2 separate regions of the Homo sapiens genome follow, and region 1 is linked to region 2. The links come from fine-mapping of genetic effects on gene expression. Tissue or cell type: whole blood. Region 2 holds a variant in brackets; the other region holds the start of a gene. All regions are shown on one strand. Distances are between the middles of the regions. Region 1 holds the start of PGM3 (phosphoglucomutase 3). Region 2 overlaps ME1 (malic enzyme 1).

Region 1 (2,815 bases), 37 kb before region 2:
ACTTTTAAAAATAAAACATCGGCCGGGAGCGGTGGCTCACGCCAGTAATCTTAGCACTTTGAGAGGCCAAGGCAGGCGGATCACCTGAGGTCAGGAGTTTGAAACCAGCCTGGCCAACATGGCGAAACCGCCTCTCTATTAAAAATACAAAAAAATTAGTCGGGCGTGTTAGCTGGCGCCTGTAATCCCAGCTACTCGGGAGGCAGAGGTTGCAGTGAGCCGAGATCGCGCCACTGCACTCCAGCCTGGGTGACAAAGGGAGACTCGGTCTCAAAAAAAAAAAAAAAAAAAAAAAACAGGCCAGGTGAGGTGGCTCAGGCCTGTAATCCCGGCATTTTGGGAGGCCAAGGCGGGCGGATCACGAGGTCAGGAATTCAAGACCAGCCTGACCAACATGGTGAGACCCTTGTCTCTACTAAAAATACAAAAAGTAGCCTGGCGTGGTGGTGCGCGCCTGTAGTCCCAGCTACTCAGGAGGCTGACGCAGGAGAATCGCTTGAACCCGCGGGTGGAGGTCGCAGTGAGCCGAGATCGCGCCACTGCACTCCAGGCTGGGCGACAGGGTGAGACTCCGTCTCAAAACAAACAACAACAAAAAATCGGCCCTTAGCCCACTAATACTGTTTTCTCTGGGATACTCCCATTAAGTGGAACTTGGGGTTTCCAACCTCAGTCAGTAGTTTTCCTTCAGTAGTCCATATACTACATTTCCTGGGTCAATTAATTCCCAATTAGCCCAGAGATGAGGAGCAGTCCGCCAGCTGCTAGCCTCATAATTTTGTTTTCTTTATTGTCCTTCATTGCTTCAATGAACAGAACTTGCAAGAAATGGTGAAAAATACTTGCTTTTGTCCAGTTGGAAAAAGCTGGCATTCAGTAAACTAATTTAGTTCAAGACAGTGATCAGATCTCTTTCCTAAGGATGAATACATATTTGTAAAAACTGAGCAGTCAGTTATGTGTCATGATTATTCATAAGAGTGTAAACCAGTCCTGTTAACTCCAAAAAGCCATTAAAAAAAAAAAGGTCCAGATAATATGAGTTCATCCTTTCATGCGTTTTAGGCCCTACAACTACTTTCAATGCCTCTGCGAATGCCTTTATTGAAAGCATATTTGCCAAATCCAGCGTCCACGCAAAAAGTTAAGAGTATCCCCCTACTCTCCATTCAATCTTCAAATCTCCTTGGTGCCTCTCTCCCGCCTACCCTCGAATCACCGCACAAGGGTGATTCCCGGCACTCCACCCTGAGGTCCCCGCCTAGGTCCACGTACCAGAGCCCCGGCAGGAGACCCGCGGCCCGTCCCGACCAGCCCGCCCGCGGGGCGCAGGGGCCTGTAGGTGTGTCCCGCGCGCTCCGCCGCTCGGTCAGTCGCCCGCCAGACCACTAGCCCCTCCGTCGGGCCGAGAATCTGACCTGTCCCGCTCCCACCGAGCCCTTGCCGACCGGTAGTCTCCCTTCTCAACTCCGAGCCTCGGGGCCCGGCTTACCTCGGTCAGGAAGCCCCCTTCACCTACACGCAGCGGAGAAGCGCCCAAGCAACAACGTCTGCACCCAAACCCAGTCCTCAGAACCGCAGACGTGGCCCTGCGTGGCTTCCGGCTCGTCGCCACGCCCCCTGGCCAATCACGGCAGAGGACTATCCGCCAGCCCCGCCCCCGCCTCGCCGCAGGTCGCGCGCAGCTGGCGCCTGAGGAACTGCGGCTGCGGTTCCGAGCGGGGTCTGGGGCTGTTACCATTGAGTGACCAGAAAGGGTGAGGCCCCCGCGGTGGCCCGGGGGTTGGGGCCGAGGGTCGCGGGCCCTCAGAGCACTGCGGCCGCGGAGGCACAGCCTCCGCCTCCAAATCCGGGCCTCTGGGGGCGGCAGGCCCTGCGTTCCTGGGAAGCCGGGGTTCCTAGTGGTCTTGGCTAGGGGCGGGGGTGGGGAATCAGCCCCGTCGCTGGGCCTCGGACAGGGCGACCTCGCCCACAGTGAGCGCCGCCGGCGGCCCGCATCCCCCTCTCCGACGTCGAGGTCATCTCCCAAACCTTTGAATCTGGGAAGCCTTCTCCGGCTGCCGTCTCCCCGGGTACCCCCTTCCCCCAGCTCACTGTAAACATCTTTTATTTAATGACCTCTGAGACACCCCCTACCCTTATCCTGGGTCCCTCGGGGCAGAGGCCAGTGAATCGTAAACGTCCGGAGCCCTGGAATGCGGCCCAAGCGAAAAGGCCACCGCGGTGTTGGGGGGGGGCGGTCCGCGAGTCCAGGACCGAGGGGTGGCGACTGGCGCTGGGGAACTCGGAGCCCATCCTGCTGGCACTGCGGCCTCTCTCGCCGCAGCGTCTGGCTCCGCCCAAGCCCGAGCCCCGGGTGGGATTGGAAGCCGGGCCCCAGCCTTTCCCAGAATTCAGGCTTGCAGAGCGTCTGCAGGTGTCTGCCTGCCACCTGCAGCGGGACAGTTCCAAACACCTGTTGAAAGTGCAGATTCCCCTATCTAGTGCGGGGTGCGGGAGGCGGGAACCCGGAGCCCGGGTACGCAGAATATGGGTTTTTACGGAGTGTTTTAGAGGATGTTGTGCATACTAGATTTTGGAGTCAGGAAATAAAGAAGAGTGCAAGTGTCTGGTTTGTGCCCCTAGCTCTCGGTGCAAAGCGTTCCTGCAGAATTGCTTCCACGTAAAGGGACCTTCGGGAAATTTCGCTGGATACCGGCTGGCATTGACAAACCCAGCGTCCCTGAGCCTTGTGAGGTTTCCAGGCAGGCTGATTGCGAGGCAACATGTCTGCTTCGGTGAAAGAAAGCCTTCAGCTTCAGCTACTGGAGATGGA
Region 2 (2,815 bases):
TCAAGCCTAGAAAAGTGCTGAACGTGCCAGGTATTAACAGGCTGAGTTAGAGGAGGGGGCCATACGCTTCATCTCAGATCAGTAAGAGAAAGACGACAGGACTAAAGTTAAAAATCTAGGTCTCTACAGGGTACTGTCGCTTGAGCGAACGTGTAGTTTTTTGAATTCAAAAAGGCTAAATTATACCTCAAAAATTGGTAGTAAAAAAAACAATCAGGTCAAAATAAGGGGTAGGGGAGAAGGGAGAGGAGAAAATGCTTACCTATGAGGGCAGTTGGTTTTATTTCTTGAACAATGGCTTCTAGGTTCTTCATTTCTTCATGTTCATGGGCAAACTTCTCTTTCTCTTGTGTTAAGGAAGCACGTCCCTAAGTAAAGCCAGTAAGAAAAAATTAAGAATCTGCCAAACATGTGAGGGTCAATAAATTTCGGTACATATATTACAAATATTTATGCTTAACATTTTTATGTATGATGTGTTACAGCTATTCTTAAAATCTCTTCTTCAATTGTCAGAATGTTATTTCATTCATTCGTTTAACAAATATTTATATGTCAATGTTCTAGGCAATGGAGATGTAACAGTGAACAAAACAAAGTCCTTCATTTAATTGATATTAAAAATCCTAATTTTACAGACATGTGAGAACTAGCATTAACAAATGGCCATGCAAAATATAATTTAAATAATTATATTGTTCGTCACACATTGTGTTTTATAGCAGGTCTCAGAATTTGGAGTTGGCTTCAGCTTTAGCCCTACCAATTTATGCTACTGACTAAGAAAAGAATTTGAAGTCATATTTATGTCATTGTTAGATTTTCTCAGTAAGTATGCATTTTATATGTTTTTGTTTTTAATGTTCTGATTATGAATGCGCCATGTGTTATCTAGTAAACATCTAATTATAATATTCTAGCTGCAAATTTTAAAGATTTGACTACATAATGGATCACTGCCTAATTTTATATGGTACTTGATGACTTACAAGTTGTTTTCACATATTTCATTTGATCCCCTCAACAATTCTGAGAAGCAGGACAAGTATAAGTATAGTCATTTTACATATGCGGAAACATGTTCAGAGGTTTTAAGGGACTTGCTCAAGGCAAGAGATTGTACTAGAACTCAAAGCCTTTTCAATATAGCACAGAATCACCCCGGGCAAAAACTTAACAAATAGTATGTCATAGTCTTTGCAAATTGTTAATAATGAAGATAGTACAATTTTCTTTCTTTAAAGGGTATTATCATTTTATTTCTGTTGCTTTTGTTTGTTTGAAATGAGGTCTCATTTTGTCATGCAAGTTGGAGTGCTGTGGATCAGAGGTCACTGCAGCCTTGAACTCCTGGGGTCAAGGGATCCTCCCACCTAAGCCTCTCTAGTAGCTGGAACTACAGGCATGCACCACCATGCTTGGCTAATTTATCATTTTTTTTTAGAGATGGGGGTCTCGCTATATTGCCCAGGGTTGTCTCGAACTTCTGGCCTCAGGAGTGATCTTTTCGCTTCAGCCTCCTGAGTCACTAGGATTATAGGCGTGAGCCACCATGCCAGGCTCTGTTTTTTTTTGTT[G/T]TTGTTGTTGTTGTTGTTGTTTTTAATTTTGTTTTGTTTGTCTTTTTTTTTTGAGACAGAGTTTTTGCTCATGTTGCCCAGGCTGGAGTGCAGTGGCGCGATCTCGGCTCACCGCAACCTCCGCCTCCCGGGTTAAAGCTATTCTCCTGCCTCAGCCTTCCAAGTAGCTGGGATTACAGGCATGTGCCCGGCTAATTTTATATTTTTAGTAGAGACAGGCTCTGTTTTTAAAAGCAATATACTGAATTATTAAAAAATTTGAAACATATGAACCTCTTTGTGCTTGTCTCCTCATCTGTAAATAAGGATAATAAGGACTTCTACCTCATCAGGTTGTTTGTGGGGTAAATGAAATGTAATGCATGTAAAACACTCAGGACTGTACCTGGTTTATAGTAAGAGCTCTATGCTAGTTGTTGTTGCAATTAAAATTTTTGTGAAGAAGAAAAAAATCATAATTCCAGCACTTAAAGTTTTGGTATATTTTCTCCTATTAATAATCTGCTGTAGGCCAGGCGCAGTGGCTCATGCCTGTAATCCCAGCACTTTGGGAGGCTGAGGCGGGCGGATCACGAGGTCAGGAGATCGAGACCATCCTGGTTAACACGGTGAAACCCCGTCTCTACTAAAAATATACAAAAAATTAGCTGGGCGTGGTGGCAGGAGCCTGTAGTCCCAGCTACTCAGGAGGCTGAGGCAGGAGAATGGCATAAACCCAGGAGGCAGAGCTTGCAGTAAGCCAAGATCACACCACTGCACTCCAGCCTGGGCGACAGCGAGACTCTGTCTCAAAAAAATAAAAAATAAAAAAAAGAAATGATTAGCCAGTTTTGAGAATCAGTGTACTAAATGATCTATCATATCCCTACCACATGCGTTTTTAAGAGGTTATGTGCTATGTTTTCAAAAAAGTATACAATAATGAGTCTAAAGAAGAAAAGCTATAGAATAAGATAAATTGGAAGTCACAGCTTTTTTGGCTGTCAAGCTGAGATATAATGAAAAATATTTAAATTGCCTAGAATGGGAAACAAATAATAAAAAAGACAGATGAATAATGTATGAAAAGAAAAAGATATATACTTAATCATAAACATCTTTATTAATCATAGTATACCCACTGGCAGCTCCTAGACACTGAAGCCAGAACTTAGCCAGAAGACATTCCATCTAGTAAGAAGCATAAATTACCCATGGCAACACTTTCAAAGGCTTGATTCCTGGTATGACTTACAAGT

What was found. PIP is the estimated chance that this variant, and not a neighbour inherited with it, causes the effect.
Region 1: PGM3 starts here. The variant in region 2 is the best candidate, but not a certain one, in a credible set for the expression of PGM3 in whole blood (INTERVAL, PIP 0.54).

Annotation. Positions count from the first base shown.
Region 1 is chr6:83,191,687-83,194,501 of GRCh38, forward strand. It overlaps PGM3 (phosphoglucomutase 3), which reads right to left and starts at 1,579. Exons shown (of 13, transcript NM_015599.3): 1 at 1,493-1,579. RWDD2A (RWD domain containing 2A) reads left to right here and starts at 1,671. Exons shown (of 3, transcript NM_033411.5): 1 at 1,671-1,757; 2 at 2,626-2,815. The coding sequence starts at 2,766. RefSeq lists silencers at 1,230-1,299, 1,600-1,969 and an enhancer at 1,542-2,041.
Region 2 is chr6:83,228,564-83,231,378 of GRCh38, forward strand. ME1 (malic enzyme 1) reads right to left here. Exons shown (of 14, transcript NM_002395.6): 10 at 263-368. Among named protein-coding and RNA genes, the nearest start is that of RWDD2A, 37 kb to the left of the region's middle. The variant G/T (reference allele first, on the strand shown) is at 1,578.